Regions from separate parts of the Homo sapiens genome. Here regions 2, 3, 4, 5, 6 and 7 are each linked to region 1. Evidence: fine-mapped expression QTL. A gene starts in region 1. Each other region holds a variant in brackets. All regions are shown on one strand. Distances are between the middles of the regions.

Region 1 (4,541 bases):
CGAAGCCCTTGCCGCCCCACCCCCCCAGCCCGACCTCGAGGAGTGGGGTCAGCTGGGCAACCCAAGCTCGGCGGCCCTTTCCCGCGCGCCCCCTCCCCAGCCCATCCTTCCCCTGCCCCTTCCAAGAACTAGGGTGGGCTTCCCGCTGCCTCGCTCGAGTCCTGGAGAGCGGAGAGGCGCGCAGAGGGAAGGCAAAGACCCGGCGGCCCGCCCGGCTGGGGAGAGGTGGAGACCCGGGGGGAAGGGGACCCCAGAAGCCCTGGGACCGAGCTGCGGAAAAACCCGGGAGCTGGATCGCGCGCCCGGAGCTCCGGTCTCCGAGTCCGAGTTGTGCAGCTCTCGGCGTCCTCTTTCTCTCCCTGCCTCTCTGCTTTCGCCTCCTCTGGGTCTTCTCTCGAGGGCATCCTCCTTCCATCCATTCTCACACCCCCGCTCCTGTGCCCCGACCCATTTCACCCACTTCTCCTGTGGCTCGGGAGGACTCTCCGTACCCCCACCCTGGTCCCTAGAACTGGGAGGCTGGAAGTCCATTCAAGGGATGTTGCGCGCCGGGTTCTTATGCCAAGAGGGAAAGAGCGAGAATAAAATCAGCAGGGGAGGGGCGTGTTGTGCGTGCATGGGGTGTGTGTTTGGGGTGGAGGAAAAAGAAATGTAGTTTCCTCAGAGGAAGAGGAAGCCTTGGACAGGATTCTTGGATACCGATCCCAGAAAGATGCCGTCAGAGCCCTTCGGCGGGGCTCCTCACAGACTCCGGCTGCCCCACAGCATGCCCACCTCCGAGAGAAGCTGCGACCCGAGGCGGGGAAACTTCCTACTTCTCACGACGGCTGTTTTGTGCAATTTGGGGAGCAGGCTGCATGGTCCTGCAAGCCTGCGAGCCTCTCTACCACGGCAGCTGCGGGCCCGTCCCGCTTCCCTTCCCCCTTTTTCCGCGAGGCACGCCAAGCCCGAGGCGGCCGGGAGCCGCCGGGGTTGGGGGAAGAAGGGCGGGGAGCTCCCAGCTTGCACCCTTTCATCCCGACCCGGCCCGGGATCCCGGCTCCGGGTGTTGCTTCCGCCTGCCTGCCAGCCAGCGAGCTGAAGAAGCACCGGGGCGGAGTCTCGCCGGGGGGCGGAGCCTGTGCGGGGGCGAACTCTCGGTCCGCGCGGCTGCGGCGCTTGCCATTGGCCGGCCGCTCGGTCACGGGGTCGGGGGCGGGCGCCGACGCGGGCGCCGGCCCCGCCCCCGCTCGGAACCCAGCCCCGGCTCGCGGTCCCCCCCGGCTGCACAGACATGACACAGACACACAGTCACTGCAGCTGCTGAGCGAGTCCGGCGCTCTGGGCACGCGGAGGCGGCGGGGCCAGCCCGGAGCCCGGACCCCAGCGCCCGCCCCTGCCGGTTCCCGCGCGGCGGCCCACTCCTGGCCGGGCGCGGGAGGCGGGGATCGCGCGCCGGCTCCGGCCAGCGGCGCCCGGCTGCCCGCGGCGGCTGCAGCGGCCGCCCAGCTCCGAGCGCCGGGCGCTCCGGGAAGCCGGCGCATCTCGGAGGCGGCGGCGGCGGCCAAGGCCGGCGAGCGCTCCCGGCGGCGGGGGCCGCCCGCCTCGGCTCCCCGCACCCACCGCGCCGCGATCCACTCGCCGCGCCTCCGCTCCCGTGACCTTCCCGGGGCGCCTCCCCTAGCCCCGCGCCCCCGGCCCCGCGCCCCAGGCCGGGGCGAGGCCTTTTCCGGCGCTTCTTTCCCGCGGAGCCGCGGGCGGGCGGCGCAGGCCCTGGGGGAGAGCGCGCCGCGGCCGGTTGCAGCCCCCCCCGCGCCGCCGCGTTCGGCGCCCGGCCCGGCCAGTCTGCTCCTGCCCCGCCGCCGCGCCGGAGCCCGGGCGCCCGAAGCTGGGGGCGCGGCCGCGCTCGTCTCGCCGGGCTGTTCGCGGGCAGGCCCTGCCCTGAAGGGACGAATCGGCTTGGAGCGCGGGAGGTGGAGTCGGCCCCGGCGGTCGCTCCCTGGACCCAACCCGAGGCTGACCCAGGCCCCTGCCCATGCGGGGCGCCCCTGGCTCGGAAGAGTCCCCCGGGCCGGGAGCAGCTCCAGGCAGCGGCCCCGGAGGAAGAGGAAGAAGGGACAGTGCTCAGCTTGGGGGACCCGGACCCTCGCCGCGGCATTTGGAGCCGGGGGCAGTCCCGAACTCTGTGCTTGGCACCGCCGCTCCGAGTAGGGCAGCGCCTGCCGGGACCCTGACCCGGACCCCCTGCGCCTCGTAGGCGGCGGCGCCGCCGCGCCACCCTGTTCTTCCGTGTCTCCCTCTGCCTGGCGGCAGTCACGGCCAAGGTAAGAGCCCCGGAGCGCGAGAGTCGCCGCGGGGGCGCCGTGGTGTGTAGCGCCGGACAAGTTCTCCGAACCTGTGGCTGGTACCCCCTGTACTCGGGATGCCGGCGGGGAGGCCGGGCACACCCTCTGCTGCCCCGGCCGGGAGCCCTGGAGAGGCTGGAGGTGGAAGCCCCCAGTCTCCGAAGTCCCCAGGACCCCCTCAGGGCCTGCTCGGCTTCTGGGCACACAGGCTGCTGGCAGGGAGCGAGCCAGGAGGAGTTTCTGGTTAACACCACGAGGGCATGTGACCGATACCCGCACCCCCGGCCCTCTTGTTAGCGGTGAGCACCTGTGGTTCGCGGAGCCTGCCGTGTTTGGAGAGGGCCCTGTTGGGCGGTACGCAACTACCTTTCGTGGTGTGATGCTGTGAATAACTTTTCTTGTTCCTTCTTGCAGACAGTCCTGCGCAATTTGGGGGCGAGCAGCCACAGCTTGCGAGTCCCTCTTTAGGACAGAGTGGTTGGTTGGCATTGCTATCTGTAGGGGGGAAGCCCAGCCAGCATGTCCTTCCTGTTAGTCAAAGCTGCTTGTGAGGAGTGATCAGTGTATAGCTATCCAGACATTCTTGTAAATGTCACTGCTTTTGAAGTTTTGGAGTGAGGACTCCAAAGTTTGTGTATCCTCAAGTTATTTTGTTCATTGCCTTATCCTCTTTTAAATGTTCCTCTTAAGGAACCTCAGTTGTACAAGCCTGTCCTTGCCTGTTTGAAATTTATTAAACCTGTGAGCTTCCCCCAGAACAATCTGATTTTAAATGGGTCACTTCGGAGGGAACAGATTGTCTCTTGCACACTGAATCCATCCCTTGGGTGACCCTGTTTAATGGGGTTGGACTCTTTTTTTTTTTTTTTTTCGTCTCTGTGCTGATGTGCCTCGGTTGAGCAGGTTTCTGCTGAATTCAGAATCCGTGAATTTTGTCACTCAGTCCATTAAAATGATCTCCTGAGGGAGCAAAATAGCAGCTTACATTTTTCGTGAATGTCACTGGAAGTTTTACAGGGTCTTATGTAAGTGCCCAGAGAGAGAGAGAGAGGAGGGAGTGGGGGGAGATCAGGCTCCTGCTTCCTTCAAGGGGAGAAACGGAGGGGGTGGCAGGTGGGGGCGTCCGCCTCCCTGACATGCAGATGCCTTTCTTCTCTGACACAGGTGTGGAGACCTGAAGTGCTTATCATTCCGTGGAGGCAGTCACCTCGGGTTAATTTTTCTTCTCACTTCTCCTGTCTTCCCACCTCAGGAGTCAGCTTTGATAGACTTAAGATAAGGAAAGCTTCTAAATTAAGAAGGGAACAAGTGGTGGTTGTTTCTTCTCCCATCCCTCACAAATGGGTGACATGAATGAATTACTCACTGGCACGCTTGGTCCTCCCTAGGGGTAAAAATAAAAGAAATAAAAACGCCAGCTTTAAGATTTCACACATCTCTTAGTGTACCTTTATTGTTCAAGAGTACTTTAGTGAAAATTGCTTGTGGAGAACACATTTATCGAGCCTGTCCCTGTTAATTCCATACCAGGAAGAAAACTCACTCGAACAGAGAGGCAAAAATCACCAAGATTTAGAGGTTAGTGGGTTTTCAAGAGTGGCGAGGAAAGGAATCAAATCCCCCTGGCAGGAGAGAGAGGTTTTTAACGGGAAGATCGGATTGCTCTGGAGTGAGCAGTAGCTGCTGACAAGTGTGGGCCCTCCTGCTTCACTTAATGAAGTGTGCTGGGGTGTGGATTAACTTTTTGATGTGAGCCAATGCAGATTCCTTTGGCTTTTAAACCATACCTGGAAGGGCCTTAGAAATGAAATGAAAGGTTTTTTTCATCTCATCATAGGTCTCGGAAGTGCTTCCATCTCTTGGGAAGGTTGTGACGAAGGTTTCCTTTGTTTCTGGGTTCCTGAGCTGCGCTTTAAAGTTGATGCACAGTGCAGGGAGGGTGCGTCCTGTAGTGTCGCCATCCTTCAGCCACCTACAGTAGCAGGACACTAGGGGGGACTAGTTATCTTTTCCACCATCGAAGAAGAAAACACCAGGGCCCATGTTACTGTGGTTTATCTTGAGGGTTCATGAGCCTGTGGTTTATGTTGAGGGTTCGTGAGACTGTGGTTTATCTTGAGGGTTCCTGAGATGAACTTTTTGGGATCTAGTACATGCTTGCACTAGTGAGTGGATTCTGAGTGCCTAAGGGATGGGCCTGCTCACATCTAAATTGTC
Region 2 (4,541 bases), 550 kb after region 1:
ATTAAATTCAAATGCAATCAAATTGAAGTTGGTCAGCAAATTGATCAATAAAGTCAAAAGTTTGAAAGGGACCAATAAAATAGACAAACCTATGGCGAGACTCATCAAGAAAAAAGAAAGTGAACTCACCAAGAAATGAATAGGGGCACCTAATTCCAGATCCACTTACTCATTCTCTCATTGTTTTTGAGCAAGTGACTTCTGAGTTCTAGATATACAGCAAAGATAAAGCAAACAGTCTCAGTTGGTGGAGCTTTCAATCAATTAGCAGAATTGAAAAAAAAAATAGAATACTGTGAACAACATTATGTGAACAAATTTGAGAATTTTTGTTAAATGGACAAATTCCTAGAAATGTGTTACTTACCAAAACCGATTTAAGAAAAAAGTATAAAGTTTAGATTATCTTCTAGCCATTAAACCTTTTTAAAACAGTACCCCTAGACGGCAAGTAGAAATAAGTTCTACCAATTTTTTTTAATCCAAGGACATTTCCAATTTTAAATAAACTTTTCTAGAGAATATGAAAAGAGGAACACTTTTTAACCCATTCAGCAAAGCCAGGATATTATCAACACCAAAATCAGACAAAAAAAAAGTGCATTAGTCTGTTCTCATGCTGTTAATAAAGACATACTCGAGACTGAAACTAGGTAATTTATAAAGGAAAGAGGTGTAATTGACTCACAGTTCCACAGGGCTGGGGAGGCCTCACAATCATGGCGGAAGACGAAAGAGAAGCAAAGTCACGTCACAAAGACAGGAAGATTGCAAGCCAGTCTCACTCATGAATATAGATGCAAAAATCTTAAGCAAAATATTTAGCAAACCAAATCTAGCCATGTATAAAATAGATAATATATCATTGCCAAGTTGGGTTTGTTCCAGGAAAGACAAGAGTGATTTAGCATTGAAAAATCCACGTGTCATTCAGCATGTTAATAGATTAAAGGAGAAATACCAAATAATCATATAAACAGATGAAGGAAAGTTATTTGACAAAATTACGTGCTCATTCATGATAAAAACTCTCATAAATAGTAACTAGTGAAAACCTACAGTAAACTATTGCTGAGCATTTGCTCAGGGCCGTGCAATTAGTTGGAAAGAGGAGAGCGTGCAAGAGCACACACACATTTATGAAAGCATTTTGGTATATGAAGAGGCAACATACCTGATCATTGAAGAAATGATTAAGTTTTCCATAAACTGTGCTGAGACACCTGATTATCCACATGGAAAAAATTTAAGTGGATCCCTGTCTCATACCATGCATAAAATTAATTCCAGACGGATTAGAAACTTAGAAAGTGAAGGGCCAAATTAAACTTTTATTTTTTAAATGAAAAGGGAAACTGGCCTTAAGACTTCAGAATGGAGAAGTATGTATTCAACAAGACATCAAAAACGCATACCATAAATGAATGAATCCGTAAATTTAATCACATTGATATCAATAACTCAATCAAACAGGCATTAAAAAGAGAAAAGCAGGCCAGGTGCAGTGGCTCACGCCTGTAATCCCAGCACATTGGGAGGCCAAGGCAGGTGCCTCACTTGAGCTCAGGAGTTCGATACCAGCCTGGCCAACATGTGAAACCCCATCTCTACTAAAAATACAAAAATTAGCCAGACGTGGTGGCGCATGCCTGTAGTCCCAGCTACTCAGGAGGCTAAGGCAGGAGAATTTCTTGAGCCCGGGAGGTGGAGAGGTTGCAGTGAGCCGAGATTGTGCCACTGCACTCCAGCCTAGGCAACAGAGCAAGACTCCATCTCAAAAAAAAAAAAAAAAGAGAGAAAAGCAAAAGATACTTCAACACATGTAACTGACAAGAGAGCACTA[A/G]ACAAAATATATAAGCAACTCTTAATATTGAATGATAAATCTGTAAAACATGTAAACAGTCCTTTCACTTGGTTGCCAGGCAAATGGCCAATAAACACATGAAAAGATATATAGCCTCGCTGTTCATCAGGGAAGTGAAAATTAAGACCACAAATAATTTTATAGCCACCAAATTGGAAGAGTGATACTATCAAGTCTCAGTTGACCAGTGGTCTGTTATGTCACCCATAGGAGTGTGTATGGATACACCAAATTGGAAAACACTTTGGCACTATATTGAAAAATTGAAGTGGAATATACCTTACAATCTGGGTCTTGGATGTAATAGGTCACAAATGGAGAAGTGGATGACTTTCTAAAGAAAGTCAGGTTCAGCCATCAGTGAGCGAATTACAACAGATAGAAGTAGTGCTTTGGAAGGCCTGTGTCCTCCTGATGAATGACATTTCTTGACCAGGCAGGGCACAGGAGACTTCTAAACTCTCAAGTCTTTTTATATCAAAAATAAAAACATAAAAATAAGTACAACTAAAAACTTTGGCAGGCCTTGAAAAGGGATAAAATTCTGAAGGTCAGGCATGGTGGTTCATGCCAGTAATCTCAGCACTTTGGGAGGCTGAGGCAGGTGGATTGCTTGAGCCCAGGAGTTTGAGACCAGCCTAGGCAACATAGTAAGACCCCCGTCTCTACAAAAAATAAAAAATTAGCCGGCATGGTGGCATGTGCCTGTAGTCTCAGCTACTTGGGTGGCTGCGGTGGGACGTTTGCATGAACCCAGGAGGCAGAGGATGCAGTGACCTGTGATTGTGCCACTGCACTCCAACCTGGGCAACAAAACAAAAAACTGACATATGCTATAACTTGGATGAACTTTGAGGACATTATGCTTAGTGACCTAAGCCAAACACAAAAGGACAAATACTGTATTATTTAACTTAAATGACTTATGTAAAGTGGCATGAAACATGCTACTTAAAATGGCATGCAATTTAAAATATGAATTATTTCTGGAATCTTCCATTTAATATTTTCAGACAGTGGTTGACCTCTGGTAACTGAAGTGGAGAAAAGCAAAACCCCGAGTAAGGAGAGGCTGTTGTACTCCCAAGGGAAGAACATAAAAAACAGCAATTAGGAGGTCCTTCGTAAACGCGGAACGGGATTGAAAAAACAAAAGATGGGAGGAAGCGGAGAAAAAGAATGAAAATAGGCCGGACACAGTGGCTCACGCCTGTAATCCCAGCACTTTGGGAGGCCGAGGCGGGCGGATCACGAGGTCAGGAGATGGAGACCATCCTGGCTAACACGGTGAAACCCCGTCTCTACTAAAAATACAAAGAAAAATTAGCCGGGCGTGGTGGCGGGCGCCTGTAGTCCCAGCTACTCGGGAGGCTGAGGCAGGAGAATGGCGTGAACCCGGGGGGCGGAGTTTGCAGTGAGCCGAGATTGCGCCACTGCACTCCAGCCTGGGCGACAGAGCGAGACTCCGTCTCAAAAAAAAAAAAATATATAGCAAAGATGCACTTTGACCAGGACTCTGAGACCCAGATTGGCCTGGTGGGACAGACGGTGTTCTTGGGTCATCCCTGAGGGCTCCACAGAAATGTCCAGGCACCAAGAGGACCCAGAGGGTCTCACCATCCCGCTCAGTCCCACCCGGGAGGTGAATCATCCCTTCATCCAGCATCTCCATGCTGTCTGCACTACTGGCCTGTGAATCACTTAGTAGCCATCTCAGTTATCAGATTGACTCTCTGGGATCGCAATGCTTGTGTTCAAGTCGCCCTAATTTTACTTCGTCATGGCTCCAAAGTGCAAAAGCAGTGGTGCTGACGTATTATAATTATTCAGTTTTATTATAATTTATTGTTATTAATCTTTCACTGTGCCTAATTATGAGTTAAACTAATCATAAGTATGTATGTATAGGAAAAAACATGGTATGGAGTTAGGTACGTGATACGGTTTGGCTGTATCACCACCCAAACCTCATCTTGAATTGTAGCCCCCATAATCCCCATGTGTTGTGGGAGGAACCCAGTGGGAGTTACGTAATTGAATCACGGGGGTGATTTTCCCCATACTGTTCTTGTGGCAGTGAATAAGTCTCATGAGATCTGATGGTTTTATAAGGGGTTTCCCTTTTCCCTTGGGTCTCATTCTTTCTCTTGCCTGTTGCCAATGTAAGCCATGCCTTTCACCTTCCACCATGATTGTGAGGCCTCCCCAGCCACACGGAACTGTGAGTTCTCCATTAAACCTCTTTTTCTTTATAAATTACCCAGTCTTGGGTATGTCTTTATCAGCAGCGTGAAAACGGACTTATACAGCACTATTGCATGGTTTCAGGCAACCATTCTGGGTTTTGGAATGTGTGCAGATACTACTGTAGACAGGGGGACCCTGCCTCTCCTGGTCTCCCTCAGCTCACACTCTGCTACTCCAAAGGAGAGTCAACCTGAGCAGCCCCCTGTGGGAAAAGCGGGAGCCCCATGCTGGGTCAGATGATTGAAAATGTCATTTAAAGCGAGAATCATAAAAATATTTTAACCTTGATTTGCTTTCTTTTCATCCACAGGCCAGGTTTTTTGATCTGCTAATTGAGTGCTGTATTATCTTGCATAAACCACCCTCATGCATCTTCTGTGGTTATCGGTGTCCTTTCATTCAAAGTGAAACAAGAACTTAAGGACTCTTC
Region 3 (4,541 bases), 80 kb after region 1:
GCCAGAGCAACAGCGTGCGTCGAAGGCACTTAATAAATAGGATTCGGTGCTTTACGTCCGTGTAGAGACAAAAATAGATCAAAAAGCTTTTCGATTTTACTTTTGAGTACAGTGTTCTGACTTTCTAGATGGTAAGGAACCATTTAGAACTATAAAGGGATTTCGATTTCGATAACAGTAACTGTGTTTAATGTTACAAACTTTCTATTTTGTAAGTGGCTTTCTTTGAAGTCCTGTTGGCAGTTTGTTAAATATTTTAGACTGTTATTTGTGACCAAGAGGTTCAGTTTGGAGGACTTTTTGTGATTCACCCGTGTGCTTTAAAATAATTTGCCACTATTTTTGGAGTACTCGGTCCCAGGAGATTTGTGCATGAGTCCTGATTTTGTCTCTTAGTAGCAGTGTGACTCAGGGCAAGTCACATAGCCTGTGCTGAGGATCTCTTGGCTTTCTGACTTTGTATTTATTCACCCTGCTTAGTTTTCCCAGGGAGACCCACACTCACACCCACCCTTTAGCCCATGGACTTTGGTGGAGATGATATTGTGCAGGGCTTCAGGGGGAGACATAGGACTCAGATTATTCCTAATACTGGCTTATAGTAATTGGCTTAGAGGTGGTTTCATGACCTAGTTGGAGCCCACAAGATGTGATGAGGCTTTTGTTGGGGCTGTTGAGAGGTATGTGTGTTCTTTCCCACTGGCCTTGAACTCAGAGGTTGGAGCTGCGGATATTGTAGCTACATCCAACCTAGTAGCTGTCTTGCTACTGCATGGCATCTGAGTATGAAGTCCGTGTGGATGAGAGCAGAGCTGAGGTGGAGAGGGACCAGGCCATCTCCTGGACCCAGATCAAACCTTGCCACAGGGTAGATTCACCTCTGGACCTTACAGATTGTGAACTATTCAGTCCTTTATTTTGCCTGCATTAGTTTGAGTTGGATTTTCTGTCACTTTCATTGGAAAGCTCCCTCAAAAACTCTGAAACATTTTTTGTACATTTGTAAGAGGAAAAAAAAATGAGAGTAACAGAACAGACGCACCTTGGCTTAGCATAGATTGCATCCTGCTAAACCCATCGTAAGTTGAAAATATCAAGTTCAAAATTTGCGTTTAATACATTTAACCTACATTACAGCATAGTTTAGCTTAGCCTGCCTTAAACATGCTCACTTTCATTGGCCTGTATTTGGGCAAAATCATGCAACCTAAGCCTAGGTATATTAAATACTGTACTGAAAATGAAAAACAGAATGGTTATATGGGTACTCAAGTATAGTTTCTATTGAATGCATATTGCTTTTGCATCATCATAAAGCTGGAAAGTCATCCAGGTGCAGTGGCTCACGCCTGTAATCCCAGCACTTTGGGAGGCTGAGGCGGGTGGATCACTTGAGCCCAGGAGTTCGAGACCAGCCTGGGCAACGTGACGAAACCTTGTCTGTATAAAAACTAGAAAAATTAGATGGTCATGGTAGCATGTGCCTGGGGAGTTTAGGCTGCAGTGAGCCGTGATCACGCCACTGTGCTCCAGCCTGGGTGACTGAGCGAGACCCTTTCCCAGAAAAAAAAAAAGCTGAAAAATCTAAGTCGAATTATCCTAAATCGGGGACTGTCTGTACTTACCTTATATCTAGGGTTGCTGTAAAGATGAAGGAGGGCAATAGATCCAATAGTACTTTAAAAGTGGTAAAATACTAGATATTTGCAAGAAAAGATGCTAGAACCTTTCACACCAAATTTTGACTGTGTGAGAAATAAATCAACAATGTAGTTTCACAGCTCCAAGCTAATAGAGATTAAACTATATTACTCTCAGTATTTTGCCAAAGTGAGTTGGTCT[T/C]CAAAAATAGTTTTAAAAGAATGTATGTATAAAAAGTTTTTAAAGACAGGAAGTAAAACTGCAACAGGATTTCTTATTCATTTTTATGACCATTTTTGTCTTTTAAAAACTAGGTCCCTTTTTATGCATGGATTCTATTATTTTTCCTAGATTTTACAGTGAGGGGATGTGCATTTTCTTGAGGGGGTGCCGATTTGGTGCAGTGCTGCTTTGCATATATTATTAAATCAAATAGTTTTATAATTGAATATGAAGTAGGGCAAAATCCTAAACCTAGTTAGTATGGGTGTGCATTTCCTGCGTATTCATTTTCCTGTGTTGGTTTACATAGTTTCTTACCACCTTCAATTCGGAGGCATTTTAGAGGCATTTTCTCTAATGATCTGGCCCATAGATCGTTTCATAAGTAAATGGGATCAGCAGGGTTTTATGTCTCCTACAGCAGAAGGTGCCTGGGCTTTAGGGTTGAATGCATCTGGGTTTGAAGCCTGGAGCCCCCACGTTTCCTGGGTCCAGGTGATCTTCTCTGGAACAATGAGGGGCATAGTTCATTGTAGTAGGCATGCATGAAAGTTAGATGAGGTGACGCAAGTCAAAGTGCCTCATACCTGGTAGGTAGTTAATAATCGCTTTTCTTATTTTTTTATTTCATGTAAACGTGTGATTTGAAGGCAGTCAGTCTGTCTCTAGGGAAATTAAGAATTTTAGCAAAGAATCAATTGGTCCCCATAGCATTCATATTTTAACTGTTCAGGCTACTAAATCTTATTCTCACTAGTTGTTCTGTTTTTGTGATCTATACAGGCTGCGGTAGAATGAGAATGTTCTCTATTGGCATGCTAACATATGGTCACTTATTTGTTCAGTTATTTATTTGTTTGTTCCAACATATGTGTAAATGGGGATCTTCTCTGCCAGGGGTTGAGGAAAACATGCTTTTTTCTCGCTGATATGGTTTGGATGTTTGTCTCCTCCAAATCTCATGTTGCAGTGAAATCCACAGTGTTGGAGATGGGGCTGGTGGAAGGTAATTAGATCATGGGGACTGATTCCTCATGAATGGGTTAGCACTGACCCCTTGGTGATGAAACAGTTCTTACTCATGAGAAATCTGGTTGTTTAAAAGAATCTGAGACCTCCTCCCTCTTTCTTGCTCCCACTTTTGTCATGTGACGTGTCTGCTCCTCTTTTACCTCCCACCATGATTGTAAGTTTCCTGAGGCCCTCTCCAGAAGTGCAGAAGATGTGGGTGCTATGCTTCTTGTACAAGCCTGCAGAACCATGAGCCAGTTAAACCTCTTTTCTTTATAAGTTACTCAGCCTCAGGAATTTCTTTCTAGCGATGCAAAAATGAACTAATATCCTAAATTATTTCTTGACTTTTTGGTGGGTCTATGGACTGGGCTATTTCTGAAGCCACTGTTTAGGTAAAAGCATTGGTTTCTATCAGAAATTCTACATTCACTTCCTCTCCTGGCAAAGGTTTTTCTATTATGGGAGTAGTTCATTCCTTTCATTTTTTTCCTCCCTGATATAAACAAAAAACGTGGAGAGCCGTCACGGGTAAGATGGATTGGATTAATTCTGCAGACACAATCAGGGAGACCCAGGAGCCTTTGGGGGAGTGAGGGAGATGAACATCATCTCAGGAAGAACTTTTAACCTCTGGAACTCCCCACCAGTAGGACGGACTGTTCCAGAACGCAGTGGTGATCTACTGCCAAAGATGTTTTATTAGGATAGAAATCGCTAAAGGACAATTATTTATTTATTTATTTATTTTGCTGGGGACAGGGTGGAGTGCAGTGGCACAATCATAGCTCACACTGCAGCCTCAAACTCTTGGGCTCAAGTGATCCTCCTGCCTCAGCCTCCCAAGTAGCTGGGACTGCAGGCATGCTCAACAACATCCAGCTAATCTTTAAACTTTTTGTAGAGATGGGGTCTTGCCCTGTTGCTCAGGCTGGTCTCAAACTCTTGGCCTAAAGGAATCTTCCCATCTTGGCCTCCCAAAGTGCTGGGAATACAGGCATGAGCCACTACACCTGTCCAATTTTTTAAAACACATTTTTTGAGATCCTAGTGGCTGTATGAGTCACTGAAGATTGAATAGACGAGATTTCAGCAGCCATAGTCCCCACATAGAATGTCAGAAGCTTGAAGTTCCATGTTACTAGAGATTGTGTAGGGGTAATGATTGAGAGCAAGAGTCTGCATTCTGTGGGCCAGTCTGTCTTCCTTTAGCCCATGAGCTAAGAATGGCTTTTACATGTTTAAAGTGTCCAAAAAAATCAAAACAAGAGTACTGTTCTGTAGCACGTGAAAATTAAATTTCACTGTCCATAAATTAAGTTTTCTTGGCACACAACCATGCCTGTTTCCTCTTATCTGTGGTTGCTTTCCTACTACAGTGATTGCGAGTTGCCAGAGAGAAAGTATGGCATGCAGAGCTTACGTGATTTACTATCTCACCTTACACATAAAAATTTTGCTGGCCCGTGTTCTAAAGTAGAATATCCTCAACTTTCCCACCCTGAAACTTTGTGGAAAATGATAATGTTTGTTCAGTGTACTGGGATAAGTGGAAGATATCTTGCTGGCCTGGGGCTGAAGGCACCACCTTAGCACACCTGAGGCTCATTTGGGGCAGAGCCTCTTGAAGTTCTCATTGAGAGCCGGCTCTGGCCATAGGCTTCAGC
Region 4 (4,541 bases), 340 kb after region 1:
ACGCTTAAATATTCCCAGGGGATTAAAAAATATGTATACTATGTAGGAACTCAGCAATTCTGTGCAAACAGAAAATAAAGTTACAGAGCTGTGCTATTAAGTTGGGTCTTGATCTTCCGCAGTTAGAATTAATTGATTGGCTCACTTCCCAATTGTTGTGTACCTCAGGCTTGATTGCACCTAAGAATCACTTGGTACTGTTGGTAACACAAAACAACACCACCAAAACAATGCTAGGGGCCACTCTGGATGACACTTTAGCATGGCTTGTGTTCCAAACCCAAACAAGCAGCAATGCCAGGCCCTACCACTAGATGTCATAGTTTAGTTTTTCTGGGGTAGGCCCAGTAGTGCGCCCATGTAATTCCAAAGTGTGGCCAGCCCTGGGCTGGGGCTGCAGCAGGTCTTTATCAGTGTCCTGAAGGAGGACATCCAGGCTCCACTTGGCTCCTGCTCAGGACCCTCCGTAATGTACAAATGCTAACCGTTAGTTTTAGAAGGCTGAGACTTTCCCTGGCACACTGTATTAGTCCGTTTTCATGGTGCTGATAAAGATATACCCAAGACTGGACAATTTACAAAAGAAAGAGATTTAACTGGACTTAAAATTCCGCGTGGCTGGGGATGCCTCACAATCATGGTGGAAGGCAAGGAGGAGCAAGTCCCATCTTACATGGATGGCAGCAGGCAAAGAGAGAGCTTGTGCAGGGGAACTCCTCTTTTTAAAACCATCAGATCTCATGAGACTTACTCACTGTCACAAGAACAGCACGGGAAAGACTTGCCCCCATGATTCAATTACCTCCCACCAGGTCCCTCCCACAACACCTGGGAATTCAAGATGAGATTTGGGTGGGGACACAGCCAAACCATATCACACACTCTAAAGTACAGAAGTTAAAAATCCATTGTAACAATCTTCCTGGGTCTGGACATATGTTTCCAAGCTTCCCTTCCTGCTTTGTATTTTGGTGTTAACAGCTTTCTCAGTAGAGCGTTACTGGCCACTTGCAGTCCTTTAGAGATTGGAGAAACATTTGTTCTGAGAAGGTGTATGACTCTATTATAACTGCATTGGAATGTTTGTTTCTGCTAACAGTATGAGCTCAATCTAGTAGTCACCTTTGTCTTTCCTGATTTTACTTCCCATTTCTGAGTACAATTAATTTTGCTATGTTCTAAGAATGTTGGTAAGAATTTATATACAGATTTCACTGTGTAATAATCATGTGAGTATCATATTTGAATCCATTTCCAAAAACGATTAAGGTTTTTGGAAAGAGGCAAATCTGATTTTTAATCCCAGCTCCTATAATTCATTATAATTGGGTGATTTCCTTGATGTCTACATCACACACAGTAATAAAGGTTATTGGGTGAATTAAAAGATACTTGTAAATTGCTTTAGTATACTGTCTGTTACATAGTAAGCATTCAACAAATGCGATTGTTATTATAAACATAATAATATTTTCTCCCATTTAATGGTGATCTTCTAAGAAAGAGGAACATTTTTCATTTACTCCTCTTTCCTTAGTATCTAGTACAGAATTTGGCACACACAATGAGTGTTTAGATAAATGACTCACTTTCGGAATTAGGTGATTTTTTTAAAGGGGATTTAGAGCATTAGGAATTCCTTTGATCAGTAGCCAAATCCCCAAGTGGAAGTAAAGGCACAATGGAATTACCTTGTACCTTGTACCGTCTTCTATACTACTTTTTAAGGGTGACATTTTTCCCTTCTGCATTCTCATGTATGATAAATTCTAAATCTAGAAAGGTTAGACAGCCATCCTCACAATCTGGTTGCCTTGACAACCATCATATTAAACAGTAAAGGCCTGTTGTTGGCGGGGGGAGGTGAATGTCAATATTACCACGGTCTAAATCTTCTGAAGCAGGGCTTGAAGGTCAAGGTTAAAAGTATTCAAAATTGCAATAAGACCTTTGGTTAATGTTTGTTAGATGTATTACAAGAGCTGAGTGAAGCCATCATCTTTTCAGGGTGACCAGTGAAGAGATTCATTTTGGCTGTCAGCCAGAAGACATTTGGACTGCCATTGACAAGGTTTTCCTTTTACTACACCAAGAGACTTTTGCCTTCTATGTGTGGTGAAAGAAAACAGTTTTTAAACCAATCAGAAATTAATAAAGGGACAACTCTGGATCATCCTCCTCAACTGTCTTTGCCTGCTTGTAAGTTGCTGTCCGTGTGTTTAAACTCACCTGCAAGGTGTATCTCCGCAGCTAGTAACAGAGATTGTCACAGGCAAGGGTGTCACCTACAAAGTGCTAAAGAGCCCTCTGAAAATGAAAAGCAAAGTGCCTCATTAATGTAGAGCAGTGTGGGGCTTCTTTAATTGCAGCCTATGTGGCTGCCCTTTTTAGATGGCTCCATGGGAAGGCGGAGGTAAGAGTGGAAGAAGGTATGGTTGTGAGAGCGAGAGAAATTGCTCCCCAAATATCCAGATGAACTTGACAACAGAGAAGTGTGTTTTCTGATTCAGCTGCCTTCTGATTAAATTCAGAAAGGCAAGAA[A/G]GAACTGTTGGATTCAGCAGAGGCTAAGATCGGGGAGCAGGTTTTTGAGATGTGTATGCGTGTGCTTTTGCATACTTCTCTGTTTTGTGGCTATTTTAGTGTTGTAAGATCCTGGAGGGTGGTGTTTCTTAACCTCTTTTTAAATATTATCACTCCCCTCTCCTATGTGCCTTTTTATACTTTTTATTTCCCTGATTAAACCTCTAACATGAGATTTTAATACCAAACCATTGGAATATCTTATTTTTTTTTGATCCCCACAAGAACCAACTTTTGTGTCTGTTAAGAATGCATGCAGTAGAGTAAATTTATGGTAACAGAAACAAAATCTTTTTTTCCACTTGCGTTTAATAGCAGAGTGATTATCTCTCTTCTTAGCACTTTGAACAGGAATGAAATATAACTAAATACACCACGCATACATAGTCACCTATCTATATCTGTGGGTTCTGTATTCTTGGGTTCAACCCACCAAGACTTGACAGTATTCAGGGGAAAAGAATAGATGGGTTACACCTGAACTGAACATTTATGGATATTTATTTTCTTTTCAGTATGCTCTAAACAATACTGTATAACAGCCATTTACATAGTATTTACATTGCATTAGGTATTAATAAGCACTCTAGGGATGATTTAAAGTATATGGGAGGATATACCTATGTTATATGCAAATACTACACTTATTTACATCAGGGGACTTGTGCACCTGAGGATTTTGGTATCCTTGAGGGTGCTGGAACCAATCCTCCACAGATAGAGAGGGTATGTATACACACACATGTTTATCCATGTGCTTTCGCGGTGATATCTGTATATATGAGCATATTCACATACATAGGAAGACTACAGATAGACAGGTTATGGCATACCCTGATAAAGCACCGTGTCATCTAACTTAAAACTAGAACAATAGCACCAAAGCCACCTGGATATCTTCACCATCCCATGCCCCACCTCCCTCACTCCCACCTCCTGTCAGGGTAAACCACCACCCTGACAGCTGTGACCATCCTTTCTGAAATTATTTGTTATGTCTCCCCAAACTGCACTGTTATTTCCTCAAAGCAATCATCTGGCACAGAGCTTTACACTTAGAAGTCGCTGAAGTGTTGAATGAATGAATGAACGAAGCAGGTGCATCAGTATATCCCCATCAGAAGCAATGGTTCTCAATAAGTGTTTTCTGTGTAAATGCATTGTTTCACTTTTTCAAAACTATTCATTGAGTGCCTTCTATGTGTCAGACACTGTGCTAAGTCTACATACATAAATACATACTGTGCACGGTAATAAGAATTGCAGCTTCTAAAATTATTAAGATCAGGCTACGCAGCAGCTAATGCAATTTTCTCCTCAGTGCATTGAAAAATCTATTAGTGAAGAAGGCAGCTATATTTCAGGAAATTAAGCCACTGTAACAGTCCAGTTCACAAATCAGAATTCCCAGTGCTTTGAAATGCTCCATTTCATAACATAAAGTACTGAAGGATGTTCAGGCAGTCTGTAAATGCTCCAGTGACCAATCCCCTCAAGCTTCGCAAAGCTAAATAGAGGATGCTTCTTGCTGGGCGATGAGAGAGGAAGGGGTTTTGTGCCACCGATAGGAGGAGGGACGTGTCTGTAGATCCACGATCACATTCCCCTTGGTTCACTTCTCCTTTGTCATCATTCTGGAATTATTTATGTTTGCAGAAGATGGTTGCTTAGTAGACTTCTGAATAATGAGCATTTTTAGGTGCAAGCCAGCTAATCTTATTTTGGGCTAGGGTTGTATGTCTGAATAAATGTTCATTGATGCTTACGGGAGATTGCTGTCACCTGCAAAGACCAGCTTCCAGGCTCTCTCAACATTTCCTTCTAAGTTGCTAATATAAGAAGGCATGAAATATGTAATTCAGTTCTCCTGTTGATGCTGGTTACTAAGAATTTTGCTGTAGCTGACCTAGAGCTGCTTGTATTTAAACAGGACTTCTAAATTTAAAAAGAAGTACAGCCA
Region 5 (4,541 bases), 700 kb after region 1:
CGGCTCACTGCAAGCTCTGCCTCCCAGGTTCACACCATTCTCCTGCCTCAGCCTCCCGAGTAGCTGGAACAACAGGTGCCCACCACCACGCCCAGCTAATTTTTGGATTTCACTGCATTAGCTAGGATGGTCTCGATCTCCTGATCTGCCAGTCTCGGCCTCCCAAAGTTCTGGGATTACAAGCGTGAGCCACCGCGCCCATCCTGAGCACTTTCTATGTGCCCCTCACTGTGCTAGGCTGTTGCAGAGCTGGGGGCATAGAGGTGGCTGTGAGCATACGAGGATGCCGACCAATGGTGGGGCTGGGTGAGCATTTGTGAATTGTTTGGGATTGACTGACTGTCCTATAGCAAAAACAAGCTGCAGGGCCAGGTGCTTTGTGACTCTAAGCGGAAGGGTCTGGTACCAGACCTAAAGTAAGATAATGTCAAAGGCTGGTCCAGGCAGAACTTGACATTTTTAGATAAGTGTATAACAAGTACGGTTCCTTGAGTCTAAACCGAGTCATTGACATGCAAGCCTAATCCAGTAGGTGACCTCTGAGGGGCTGAATTGCATGAGGGCTGCTTCTGTTGAACGAGGGAGAGAGAAATGTGGCATATGAGTATCACCTTTTTCCCTAATATGGTATAAGAACCATCACTTACTGACCACAGGACAGATTGGGCACCACACAACACTGGAGGGCGTCATTCTCATCTTAGGCATTGCTTGCACCTGAATTGTGGCGATTCCAGGCAGATGAAAGTAAACTCTCTGGTTCTATCCCAATCAGCCTACTATAACCATTTTCTAGTAGATGGAAGTAAAGTATCTTGAAGAAAAGGTGCCTATAGCAAATGCACAGGCCAATCCCTGAAATGCCCAATTGGCAGGCACCACGTGAGGTATCACGGTTTTTTTAAATCTGGATGTTGCCTACCATCAAATTCTTGGCTCATTTTCTGCTCAAGCTTCTGCCTTGCCCCTTTGACTTATTTCAAGGCTTTAGGAAGCGAACGAATAACAGTCTACTTTCTCCACCTGAGAGGCCAAAGAATCAGGCAGATAGAGATGAAACTATCACCGTTATTATGAATGATACTGGAGTAAAGTGGGTCAGCCTGTTGGAAAGCGATCTTGCTAACTAACCCTGAATAAGGCACGTTTATTCATCCAGCTGCTGGCACAACTTCACACCCATGCGTCTCCCCTGATAGGGGCAGGCTCTTTACAACACGTAAGCGAGCAGGTGAGAAAAAGGGTGCAGGTAGGCAGACCCCATTTAGGGGAGACTGGGGGGGCCTGCAACTCTGTAGTTTAAGTCATGTTGCTCCCTCTGGGGAAAAAGTCCAGGAACATTACTCAAATGGAGGCCCCTCTAGGTGTGAATGAGGTACCCTAGGGTTGCGGTAACAAATTGCCAAAAAACCAGGTGCCAAAACCAACAGGTATTTATTCTATTGCAGTCTGGAGGCCAAAAGTCCCAAATCAAAGTGTGGGCAAGACCATGATCCCCTTGAAGGCTCTACTCCTTGCCTCTTCCAGTTTCTGGTGGCTCTAGGGTTCCTGGGCTTGTGGCTGCTCATTCCAGTTTCTGCCTCTGTCTTCACATGGTCTTCTCCTCCTGTGTGTGAGTCTCCTCTTCCGACTCTTACAACATCACTTGCTATTGGACTGAGAGCTTACCCGGATAATCGAGGATAATGTCATCTCGAGGTCCTTAACTTAATTACATTGCAAAGACCTTTTCTCCAAAGAAGGTCACATTTGCACATTTTGGGAATTAGGATATAGACATATTTTTTGTGGGGGGGCACCATTCAACATGCTGCAATATGAAAACATGAAGAATGGAGGATAAATGCTCTCCCCCAAGGCCCTTCTTTCTCAGCAGTGCAGACCCCAGGCTCATGCTGGTAACCCTCCCTTCTAGACCCCTCACCCCTAACCCTGGCTGTCTCTCCTGTTGGAGCACTCAGGTGCAGCACCCTGGAGGCACAGAAAGGTCCTACGCAGTGGTGACCACCAACTTCTCTGCCCTTTTTCTTTTTTCTTAGATGTATTTTAAGTATCGTGTTCGAAATGATTCCTTGGTGAGTCCTTCCCTTGTCACCCAACCCACATGCTGGCTAGAGCTAAGGCTTTAGTGGAAATAGAGAGAAATTACATTTTAATGCTCCAGAAAGAGGTAGGAAGGAAAAGAGAGGGAGGGAGAAAAATGGCAAAGAGCCAGCAGAATTAAGTGGAACAAGCTGAGGGGCCAGTGAAAATGTTTAGTTGATATGTAGCCC[G/A]CCCATAGATATTTTAAGAAGGGGGAGGACTGTGGTGTTCTTATTGCTGTCATATAAACCTCCTTTCCCTTTTAAAATCTTTAGTAAAGACTTTAGTGTTCACAGATGATTGGTGGGGCTGGTTCCTATTTGGTGAGTGGAGGTTTCAGGAAGTTTCATATCTGGGTCAACCCAAAGCCCAGAAAAGAGGCAGTCCACAATGAGTCAGTATCCAGGAAGTAGAGGCGGGAATGGAAAAGGAAGATTCCAAGAATTTTCAAAAACACAAGAAAAGAGCTTTGGACTTCCACAGGCCATGGACTGGGGAGAGGTATAAGCCGATATAAATCCATCTTTTGGGGGTAAGGAGATATCCATCTAAAAGCTGGGTTACATTTTTTCTAGTCGTTTTTCCTCAGTTATTGAAATAAATGCAAATTTCCTTTGATGACTCAACATTTGCTTGATTTTTAAATTCCAGAATAGTGACCTTGAAGATGTATACCCAGTTTTAAATAACTTGCATCTTTTTAATGCTAAGAAGCAGCAAAATTTTTGACTTAAAACTATGTCCCAACCTTTACTCAGCAGGTGGTCCCTTGCAGAAGAATATCAGGATTGGCAGGAGAGAGAGAATTGAGATACGGAAAAAAACCGGCACAGGCATTTCCCCTCGATGTTTGTAATTGACCTTGCTAGAGATGTACACAGCACTAAATTTGTAATCAGAATCGTGTGTGGAAATAGCCTTTTGCTTAATTCCTTTGTGTTATTCCCTCTCTCTCTCTCTCTCTTTTTAACAACGGCAAGGTATTAAGCTGAAGATAGAAGGACATTATAATTTTATAAGTTTCTTAATGATAGGAGGATGTCTGCTTTTGCCGTCAGGTGTGTCTGGGGAGGGTGTGCTGAGGGGGAAACCCAGGAATCTTCCTGTGGGGGTCCCACAGGAATCTTCCCTGACCTTCCAGTTTCTCAGGGCCTCATTCCTGTGGGAGTGAGAAAGAGAGGGAGGAATGGGGAAATCAGAGCCCAGAATCCTTGCTCTAACCATGCAAGGCCGAATCTCTGTCCCCTGCATAGCAAGGGATTACATGCAACTGTTTATCCGAGAGAGTGCACATGAAGGATTCAGCTGAAAGCTCTTCCAGGAGATGGTAGGAGAGGGAGGAGGGCAGCCAGCATGGGCTGATAAAGGTACAAGATTCAGAGATTGATTCCTTTTCTGTGCTGCATCCTCTGTTGAACACACCAGACTCCCAGTAGTCAATGGGCAGCTTCAGCGCCGTGCTCAGGCAATTTAAAACTTTCTAAGATTATCCCTCAATACCTGTTCCAGGCTCAGAGGAGAGAAGAAACAGGGTCACTGACAATTTTTATGGATCAGGAAAGTGAAAAGCTGACGTACAAGCTTTCTTCAAATGAAAAAGGAGGGAGGTAGAATCTATTTTTTTCCCCTTTCACTCCACCCTGTTCTTTTATCTGTCTCTATATTCACTCTGCTCTTTCCCCCTCGTATGCTGACTCTCCATTTCCCTCTGTCTTTAGTCTTTTTGCTTGTTTATTTTTCTGTTCTTCTTTGATTTTTTTCACGTTTTAAACAACTGCTAAAGCAAAAACCAAAGCTGACAAAACAGCAAACATATATTGTTTTATTACCTAGCCTCCGAGCTTCTAACAGTATGAGCATAATATCTCTCCCTAGAGAGATGGTCATTTTGAGAAAATGGCTTGAGCTGGCAGCAAACTCAGTAAATTTCATTCCTCCTGAGCTGTGCGTGACCTCACAAATCCAAAGGTGACCTTTCTTTGTCCTCTTCCATTAAGATAGGTTAGCGGTTCTCACAGGAGCCCTCTGCAGCGGAATTCAGGATTGAATCAAATTCACCATCCGTTGTATTATCCCAGCAGTTATCAGCCCTTGTAGAATGCTACAACAAAAATCAAGGTTAGAGTGGACTTTTATGAGAAAGTATTTTTCTTTTCTTTTCTTTTTTTCTCTCTTCTCAGGACTAAGGCTGTGTGAGGGGAGGATTCCAGGTCCTTTATGAGAGAAATTGTTGGGAACAAACTGTCCCTTGTGACAGTGGGGGAGTTTGACCTTCATTGTTGCTCTCCATTTCAAACTAATTACCTGCTCCGTGGGCAGGCTGGGCAATAAATCCACCAGGCATGGCGTCTGAGTTCTGGCAGCTTCAAAGTGAGGCTTCAGCATCATGAATAGTAGAGGGTCACTTCTGGCAATGGTTGAACACCTTTCTGACTCAAGAATGAATCCTGAGGGATGCT
Region 6 (4,541 bases), 180 kb before region 1:
CTTGTTTGGTTCTTTTTTCTTTTCTTTTCTTTTTTTTTTTTTAGAGGGAATTTCGCTCTGTCACCCAGGCTGCAGTGCAGTGGCATGATCTTGGCTCACTGCAACCTCAGCCTCCCAGGTTCAGACGATTTTCCTGCTTCACCCTCCCGAGTAGCTGGGATTACAGGCACCCACCACCACACTCGGCTAATTTTTTTTTTTTTTTTTTCATAGAGACGGGTTTCACCATGTTGACCAGGCTGGTCTTGAACTCCTGACCTCAGGTGATCCGCCTGCCTTGGCTTCCCAAAGTGCTGGGATTACAGGCGTGAGCCACTGTGCCTGGCCACTTGTTTGGTTCTTACCATCCAGTCCCCAGCTCAGAGAAGTCTTCCTGGACCCTGTTGAAAGTAGCCTCTTCCACCAGCCAAGTCTTTTATTTGTTCTATTTCCTCCATGACATCTATCAGTGTCTGCAATTATTTTGTTCACTTAGGGTTCTACTTACTTATTTCTACTTACTTATTTCCACCACCAGCATATAAATTTGTTGAAACAGACACACTGTCTGTATTGTACCCCTCTGTATCCCCAGGCTCCAAACAATGCCTGGCATAGAGTAGAAATTCAACAAATATGCATTGCATGAATGAATGCTTGCAGGAATTAATGAATGGTGGTGGTAATACAGCCTCATGGTTAGAACTACAGGCTTCAAAACCTGACATCTTTGAGTATGAATTCTGGATTGAACATTTAGTAGTTACCTGAACACAGGCAAGTCAGTGAACTGCTCAAAGCCTCATTTTCTTCCTTTGTAAAACAGGGTCAAATATAGTATTTATCTCGTAAGGTGGTTATGAGAATTCAATGAGAACAACACTGGCCAAGTACTAAGCACAGTGGCTGGCACATAACCTCAGCAAATGGGCATTACAATTATCCTCCTATTTTCCCCTATTCTGTAATACTCTTCCTACTATTGCCAATTAATGGAAACTACAATTCTTTTTTCTATCTTACCTATAGAAAGTCTTCCTGAGGAGACTCTGGTCTAATTGATTCTTTCTCTATTGCCATATTGAAGTTCCATCTGCTTGCAAATTACTGTAGAATAAGAATAGAATGACAATTTAGTTAGCATCTACTATGCTCAGGCATTTGATATATACTGGATTATCTCTTTCACCCACATGGAACTCTGCCAGGGGGAAGAGCAGACAGTGGCAATTGTGCCGTGATATCTGTTTGAAACGCTTGTTCTTCAGTGCTGTAAAGAAATAGCACTTGAACATAAATCTCAGCAAAGCTATTTTTATACTTTCTGCAGAAAGGGTACACTCACCAGCAGTTTTGCCATGAGAGTACACTGAACAAAGGAGACAGGGTCATTTATAACCTGACGCTTCCACCTTACTGCTGTGTCCGGTTTCTACTGGCTGGAATGGGACCTCACATTCTGTATTTGCCTTGATTGGCTAGCAACTTAGAACTTTTTAAAAGAGGCAAAGGCAGGGGAGAACAAAGGAAGGAGGAAGTAACTTGTGGAATGCTGAGAAAGGTAAAAACACCTTCAGATAAGGAAGAGGAACAGGCTATGACTTAATGCTTGCTTGGACTAGTATAAGCATGCCAGGGCAAATATTTAGGCTAAATTGTGGGAGCTAAGAACATAAAGCACATCGATTTCTTTATTATGGCTAGCAGATATTTAAGAATATTAGCACAGGTCTTTGAATAAATTTTGCTTTTAAGAGAAGTTGCTATTTATTCCTAATTAGACTGGGAGGAAAGTCTTTGAAGAGGAACCTCTACTTTATTTTTCATGTATCCATTCTACCTTCTTTTTTAGTGATAGAGTCATAATTGCTTGGGGAAGGAGGAGCAAAGAGAACATTTCTCGGACTCCCTGGCAGTCAGTTGTGGCCATGAGACTAAGCTGTGGCCAATTAGATAAAAGCAGAAGGAAACTGGTTCAGCAGGAAAAC[T/A]AGCCTATATTTGTCCTTTCCCCCACCCCACCCACACAGTTCCTGCAACCTAGAATGTGGAGGTGGGGGTAGGGATGGTCCTTAAAGGTAGCTTGAATCTTGAGGTGAACATGAGGATGGATGAACATGAGGATGGTGGGGCAGAAAAATAAAAGAAACTTGCACACTAGCCCTAGAATCCCTACCTACACACTACATTTCTGGGAGAAATAAAAACCGCATTTCTATTTCATTCAAGTCAGTGGTATCTGAGCTTTTCTATGATAAGTAGCAAACCCTAATCCTAACCTTTACTATAGGCATCATAAGCCCATGGTATTAATGAAGACTTGGAACTCAGGAAGAGTGAATAATTTGTCCAAGATTACACAGCTAAAAAGCCACCAACCTGGTATTTGAATGTTGATGAACTTCATTCTAATAAACAAGTTTTTTCCATTAATCCTGCAAGTTAGGTCTCAATTCAGGGCAGAAAGGATCTCAGAGGGGTTTACCTCCAACCCTCAGGCAATAGGGAATCCTTTCTCCAGCATCCCTGAAGACCACCCCAGCCTCAGGCTTAATGGCCTCTGGGGACATAAAACTCATGACTCACTGTTCAATCCTTTATTTATTTATTTATTTATTTATTTATTTATTTATTTATTTTTGAGATGAAGTGTCTCTTTGTTGCCCAGGCTGGAGTGCAGTGGCACGACTCCAGCTCACTGCAACCTCTGCCTCTCAGGTTCAAGCAATTCTCCTGCCTCAGCCTCCTGAATAGCTGGGACTGCAGGCACATGCCACCACACCTGGCTAATTTTTGTATTTTTAGTAGAGACTGGGTTTCACCATATTGGTCAGGCTGCTCTCAAACTCCTGACCTCAGGCAATCCACCCACCTCGGCCTCCCAAAGTGCTGGGATTACAGGTGTGAGCCACCGCGCCCGGTCCTCAATCCTTCATTTTTCAGAAAGCTCTTCTTTGATGTAACAGCTGAAATTGACTTTTTTTATAATGTCCACGCCATAATTGTGAACTTTCAAACCAGTGAGACCTTGTGGTGTCCACTTGGCTCTTCAAACCTTTCAGGACAGCCTTCAGGTGTCTCTTGGTCTTCTGTATGCCAACTACAATGAATCCTCATTCATTCATAACACAGAGGAGGGATGCTTATGTGCCAAACACTGGGCTATGCACTGAGGCAGATGTGCTGGCTGACCTCAAGGAGTTTGTAGTCTAACGGGACTCCCTAAAAGGGCGTGGTCTCTTTTGGTCCCATTTAACTGTGCCAATTTCTTTCGGAAGAATGGTTCTTATGAGTAGTGTTTCCAATTATGGGGAGATAGACTCATAAACTTAGATTCTTTGTGTCCACCTATCTTAGCCCCTTTATATTTTCTTTTCTTTTATTCTCATCATACTCCCCCTGGAGAACTCAATCGTGCCTGGAATTTCAGTGGTAACCTAAACGCCAACCAATCCCAGGCCTTTATCTCTAAACTCTCTCTTAGGCTCCAGACTCAAATGTAAAGGTCTAATTGTCAACTCCACCTTGATATACTGCAAACCCCTCAAATGCAGTAAGTCCAAAGCTGAATCCATCGTCTCTCTCCCTGCCTCCCTTCTGCCTCCAATGCAGCCTCTCCTCCTGCACTCTCTGCTCTGGTTAATGTTACTGTGATCTATGCCATTTTCTAACCTCGCATGATCCCTTCCTCTAGCTTACACTCCACTTTCTTCCCTGCCATTCTCTTATAAATTCCCCACATCCCTCCCCACCTCCACGGCCACTGTTGAGTCCTGCATCATCATTTATCCAAACAATTCCAATAAACCCCCTGGCTAACCTTCCTGTTCCTGATGAAAACCCTGTACATTTCAATCTAACCTACACACTATCAGCATTGACCTCTTTAAATCAAACACTGGCTATAGCACCTATTACTTAAAAGCCTTCCATGCAACATGCCTGCTTATCAACTGCGAATGCTGTGGCCATAAAATGACCTCACCAATCAGGCTTCAATTTATGTTTCCAGCTTCATCTCTTCCCACTTCCCTGATCCAATTTTTGTTTGTTTGTTTGTTTCTGAGACGGAGTCTCGTGATCTTGGCTCACTGCAACCTCTGCCTCCTGGGTTCAAGTGATTCTCCTGCCTCAGCCTCCCAAGTAGCTGGGATTACATGCACCTCCCATGCCCGGCTAATTTTGTGTTTTTAGTAGAGACGGGGGTTTTGCCATGTTGGTCAGGCTGGTCTTGAACTCATGACCTCAGGTGACCTACCTGCCTCGGCCTCCCAAAGTGCTGGGATTACAGGCATGAGCCACCGCGCCTGGCCCCCAGTCCAAATTCTATACACTGAACCCCAGCTACAGGAAACGGCTCCCTGCTTTCCAACATGTCACATGCTTTTCTGACCCTGTGTCTTCCCTCTTCCTCTTCCTGCTGGTCCCTCTTTGGTAAAATGAAGTCTTCCCCAGTCACCAGGCTGAGCTTTGTCACTGCCTGTGTACTCCCTAGCTGATTGCACAACCTCTTCTAAAATCTTGCCACATGATCATAGAATGCTTGTTATATGACAGACTTTGTG
Region 7 (4,541 bases), 340 kb before region 1:
TCACAATCTAATAGAAATTATTTTTAAGCCACTTCCCAGACAGTGCAAAGGTAGAAGTATTTTATATCTATTTAACTCACTTGCATTTTGTATTACTGTTGTCACATATTCTACATAGAGCTTAAGCCCTAAGTATTATTCTTTTATTTTATTGATTTATATGTTTAAATCTTCATTTTTTCATTTACATACATATTTACTTTTTCTGTTGCTTTTCATTTCTTCTTTAATTCTGTGCTATTCTGAGAATATTTTCTCCTACATGAAGACATTTGGTATTTCATTTAACATGGGTAAGATGGTAATAAATTCAGCTTTAATTGAAAATGTCTATTTCACTTTAATTTTTGCTCTGAGCAGAAATTTAAGTTGGCAGTTATTTTAGCACTTTGAAATTTGTCTTCCGAACTCTGTCATTTCTATTGAGACACAAGTTTTCTTACTGATGCTCTTTTGAATGTAATGTGTCTCTTTGGCTACCTTAAAAGTTTTCTATTTGTCTTTGGTTTTCAACTAACTTACTATAATGTACCTACATGTGTTTTCTTTATATTTATTAATCTAGAGATCTGTTAAACACCTATAATCTGTGACTTAAGTTTGTCATTCATCAGTTTAGAGAAATTCTCAGCTAATATCTATCTATATATGTATAATATATATCTATATATGTATATATGTATATATCTATATATGTATATATATCTATATATGTATATCTATCTATATATGGATATATGTATATCTATCTATATATGGATATATGTATATATATCTATATATGGATATATGTATATCCATATCCGTATATGTATATGTATATCCATATCCATATATACATATGTATATGTATATATCAATATATCTATATGTGTATATATCTATATATCTATATATGTATATATATCGATATCTATGTATATATATCTATATCTATATATATCTATATATATTTTTTTTTTTTGAGACAGAGTCTTGCTCTGTCGCCCAGGCTGGAGTGCAGTGATGCAATCTGGGCTCACTACAAGCTCTGCCTCCTGGTTTCACACCATTCTCCTGCCTCAGCCTCCAGAGTAGCTGGGACTACAGGTGCCTGCCACCATGCCCGGCTAATTTTTGTTGTATTTTTAGTACAGACAGGGTTTCACCATGTTAGCCAGGACGGTCTTGATCTCCTGACCTCGTGATCCACCCGCCTCAGCCTCCCAAAGTGCTGGGATTACAGGCATGAGCCACCATGCCCGGCCGCTAATATCTCTTCAAATATTGTTTCTGCTTTATTCTTTCTCACCTCTATTCTGTGATTTCCCTTATACATGTTAGCCTTTTTCACTCCTGTATTGTATATTTTGCATTTTTTTCTGCATACCCCCATTAATTTTTCTCTTCATGCTCGTCTGGATTTTTTTAAAATAGATCATCATTATAGTCTTTCTTTGCTCCCATCTAATCTACAGTTAAACCAAGTAATCAAATTCTAAACTTTAGTTACTGCATTTGTGTATTCTAAAATTTTAATTTGTTATTTTTCTGGTTCCCAGGTCTATGATGAAAATTTCCAATTTGCCTAAATCTTTGAGCATGTTAGTATTCTTAAAGTCCATTTTTAATAACTTTAGTATCTATATCTCCTGTGCGTATCTTTTCATTATTGGTTTTTCTCTTGTTTTGTCTTCTAGTACACTTGGTAATATTTTATCGAATGCTGTTTTCCATTATTTTTAATGGGGGCTCTGAAAAATATTTTTTCTAAAGAGAGGATGTTATTTTATTTGTAATTGGCAACAAGGGTAAAGAGAGATCATCTCTGTTCTTATTTTATAAAGGATTTTGTAAAGGCTAGTCTATTTCCAGTTTTCTTTCTAGCAGAAGGCAGCCCTTCAGGATTTTTTTTTTAAGTCTCACTCTGCCATGTAGGCTGGAGTGCAGTGGCGCAATCTTGGCTCACTGCAACCTCTGCCTCCTGGGTTCAAGCAATTCTCCTGCCTCAGCCTCCTGAGTAGCTGGGATTACAGGTGCACACCACCACGCCTGGCTAATTTTTTTGCATTTTTAGTAGAGACAGGGTTTCACCATGTTGACCAGGATGGTCTTGATCTCCTGACCTCATGATCCACCCACCTCGGCCTCCCGAAGTGCTGGGATTAGAGGCATGAGCTACCGTGCC[T/C]GGCCACGATTCTTAATTAAAATTTATTTGTCTGGTTTCCAGTTCTATGATGAAAATTTTCAATTCATCTAAATTTTTGAGCATGTTAATATTTTTAAAGTCCATTTTTAATAACTGTAGTCTCTTTTTTAAATTAAAAATCCTGAACGGCTGCCTACTACTAGTGTGGTTTCTCCCTGATGAATCCTAAAAGTCTAATTATTTTCCCCCTCTATGTCCATGAGATGGGTGGAAGCTTTGCCTGTCTATGCAGACTTCTAACCACCACTTTTTGCTCAGCCTCTCAAGTCCCTCTTTTGAATCAGCAAATGTTACAGGGAAAAGTAGCACCCAAAGTCAGGTTGACTTCTCTCTGGAATCTTGACCCCTCAAGTCTTAGCTGTCTTGATAGCTCTCCAGTTCCTTCTTATTTTTGTCCAGTTTTTCTTCTTGTTCTTGGAGGGTTCATCTGAACAAGCTAATTCATATTTGCCAAAAGTAGAAATTCCAACTGTTATCACAGGAAGTCCCCTCTCCCCTTAATAGTGTGTTTCTTAATGGCATAGTGGCACCAACCCACCACTCTTTCACCATTTTAATGTCTAACACTTTGTGTCTCATTCAAAGCTCTTCCCTGTTTCAGAGCAGCCTAAGCTACAAGTGGGGTGGTGGGGAGAAATCCTCTATTTTACCTTGCTTCTTCCCCGAGTATCCTCTGGTGTTAAGCTAGCAGGAGAAACAAGGAGACAGAAGTGTCATTACATGAAGGCATATACCATAGTGAGTTGGCAGGTCTTTTTCTGTCAATAGCCTCTGCTCCTTGACATTGATGGGCTTAAGGATTCTTTGTGTAACAGTCATCAAAATACTGACTCTTTCATGAAAAACACTTGTTGGTTAATCACCAGCCCTGTGGGTCTCCAAACCCTAAATACATACACCATCTTGGAGAATGAAAGACCTAGATCAAGTTTGTGCTTTCCACCTTCCCAATCCCTAATACCACTGATATACTACATAAACTTTTTGTTCGTTTGTTTGTTTGTTTTTTTGAGATGGAGTCTCGCTCTGTCACCCAGGCTGGAGTGCAGTGGTGTAATCTCGGCTCACTGCAACCTCCACATCCCAGGTTTAAGCAATTCTCCTGCCTCAGCTTCCCCAGTGGCTGGGACTACAGGCTAGATTCCCTTCATCTAGACCTCAGTCTTACTGAGCACGAATTTAGCAAAACAGCTCAAGCCCAGTTGGCTTCTGGGGTTTCTTTTCAATCCATACGAAACTTATATATCTTATCCATGCCAAATAGTAGACTATGGAACTGCCTTGTTGGAGGAGAGAATAAGGCTGATTTTAATCAGCTCTGCCATCTCTCTCCTGTTTCTTTCTCTTAATCCCAACATTAGTAAACATTCTACAGATCCAGCGGCACTATAAAATTTCTAGGAGAGTTGTACTAGACCCCAGGGCAGAGGACAGAGGTGTCAGTATGGATATATCGACACTCTCCTTTGTCCCTCTGGTTTGAATGGAGAAGTGAAGTAATGAGCAATGGGAGAAAGCCTCTCTTCATAAGCAGTTTTCTCCCCAGAGCAGCTTGTCTCATTTGCAGCCCTCATCTAATATTGACTGTCTGAGGACTCTAGTGGGTGAGAGCTACGGACAGTGTCTAAACTGGTGCCTTGTAGTTAGCCCTCTGATATGGGGGCTGATATCAACTGATGGCAGTTTTGTTAAGTTGCAATATGTGATACTTATCTTCTTTACTCAGTTTTGGACCTTAGCCAAAATTCTAGAAGAATAGGAAAAACCCTGCTTGACACCCTTAGAATAGCAATTGTTATTAATAACACATAGGAAAATACAATACATATTATATTAAGCATGCTTCAAATACTTTGCAGTTCAACCTCTACCTTAATTTAATCTTTATAACCACCCTATGAGGAAGATACTATAGTAGTCCTCCCTTATCCACAGTTTCACTTTCCATGGTTTGTTACCTCTGGTCAACCATACTCCAAAAATATTAAATGGAAAATTCCAGAAATAAACAATTCTTAAGTTTTAAATTGCATGCTGTTCTGGTAGTGTAATGAAATCATAGGCCATCCTGCTTGAGTCATGAATTATCTCAGTTTACAGCATATCTGTGTTGTATACACTACTTGAATTAGCCACTTAATAGCCATCTCAGTTATCAGATTGACTGCCAGGGTATCACACTGTTTGTACTTACGTAACCCTTATTTTACTTAATAATGGATATAAAGTGCAAGAGTACTGTGCTTAATTTATAATTTAAACTTTATCATGGATATGTATACACAAGAAAAAACATAGTAAATATAAGGTTCTAGACTATCCATCTTCAGTCATCCACTGGGAGTCATGGAAC

Direction of the effects. Positions count from the first base shown, and alleles are read on the strand shown. Sizes are in standard deviations (SD) of each study's normalised expression. Not every link is listed here.
With allele T in place of C in region 3, the expression in aorta of the gene that starts at base 1,822 in region 1 is lower (small effect, 0.32 SD a copy in GTEx).
For the expression in unexposed skin of the gene that starts at base 1,822 in region 1, allele T in region 6 goes with a lower level than allele A (small effect, 0.23 SD a copy in GTEx).
In carriers of allele C in region 7, the expression in sun-exposed skin of the gene that starts at base 1,822 in region 1 tends to be higher than with T alone (small effect, 0.30 SD a copy in GTEx).

Evidence for each region.
Region 2: its variant is fine-mapped to the expression of LARGE1 in skeletal muscle (GTEx, PIP 0.92).
Region 3: its variant is fine-mapped to the expression of LARGE1 in aorta (GTEx, PIP above 0.99).
Region 4: its variant is fine-mapped to the expression of LARGE1 in whole blood (TOPMed, PIP 0.92).
Region 5: its variant is fine-mapped to the expression of LARGE1 in whole blood (TOPMed, PIP above 0.99).
Region 6: its variant is fine-mapped to the expression of LARGE1 in unexposed skin (GTEx, PIP 0.99).
Region 7: its variant is fine-mapped to the expression of LARGE1 in sun-exposed skin (GTEx, PIP above 0.99).

Annotation. Positions count from the first base shown.
Region 1 is chr22:33,917,757-33,922,297 of GRCh38, reverse strand. LARGE1 (LARGE xylosyl- and glucuronyltransferase 1) reads left to right here and starts at 1,822. Exons shown (of 15, transcript NM_133642.5): 1 at 1,822-2,303. It overlaps LARGE1-AS1 (LARGE1 antisense RNA 1), which reads right to left and starts at 1,073. Exons shown (of 2, transcript XR_001755630.2): 1 at 775-1,073. RefSeq lists silencers at 955-1,454, 1,775-1,924, 2,195-2,294.
Region 2 is chr22:33,362,868-33,367,408 of GRCh38, reverse strand. The region is part of intron 9 of LARGE1 (LARGE xylosyl- and glucuronyltransferase 1); the gene reads left to right. Among named protein-coding and RNA genes, the nearest start is that of MIR4764, 72 kb to the left of the region's middle. The variant A/G (reference allele first, on the strand shown) is at 1,844.
Region 3 is chr22:33,837,709-33,842,249 of GRCh38, reverse strand. All of the region lies in intron 1 of LARGE1 (LARGE xylosyl- and glucuronyltransferase 1), which reads left to right. Among named protein-coding and RNA genes, the nearest start is that of LARGE1, 80 kb to the left of the region's middle. RefSeq lists an enhancer at 290-349. The variant T/C (reference allele first, on the strand shown) is at 1,843.
Region 4 is chr22:33,575,431-33,579,971 of GRCh38, reverse strand. The region is part of intron 5 of LARGE1 (LARGE xylosyl- and glucuronyltransferase 1); the gene reads left to right. The region is part of intron 1 of LOC105373007 (a long non-coding RNA gene); the gene reads right to left. Among named protein-coding and RNA genes, the nearest start is that of SNORA50B, 130 kb to the left of the region's middle. RefSeq lists a silencer at 241-310. The variant A/G (reference allele first, on the strand shown) is at 2,543.
Region 5 is chr22:33,219,675-33,224,215 of GRCh38, reverse strand. LOC124905106 (a long non-coding RNA gene) reads left to right here and starts at 2,431. Exons shown (of 2, transcript XR_007068071.1): 1 at 2,431-2,614. It also overlaps a transcript of LARGE1 not described here. The variant G/A (reference allele first, on the strand shown) is at 2,274.
Region 6 is chr22:34,096,903-34,101,443 of GRCh38, reverse strand. The region is part of intron 2 of LINC01643 (long intergenic non-protein coding RNA 1643); the gene reads right to left. Among named protein-coding and RNA genes, the nearest start is that of LINC01643, 82 kb to the right of the region's middle. The variant T/A (reference allele first, on the strand shown) is at 1,968.
Region 7 is chr22:34,262,554-34,267,094 of GRCh38, reverse strand. No RefSeq gene overlaps it. Among named protein-coding and RNA genes, the nearest start is that of LL22NC03-13G6.2, 54 kb to the right of the region's middle. The variant T/C (reference allele first, on the strand shown) is at 2,168.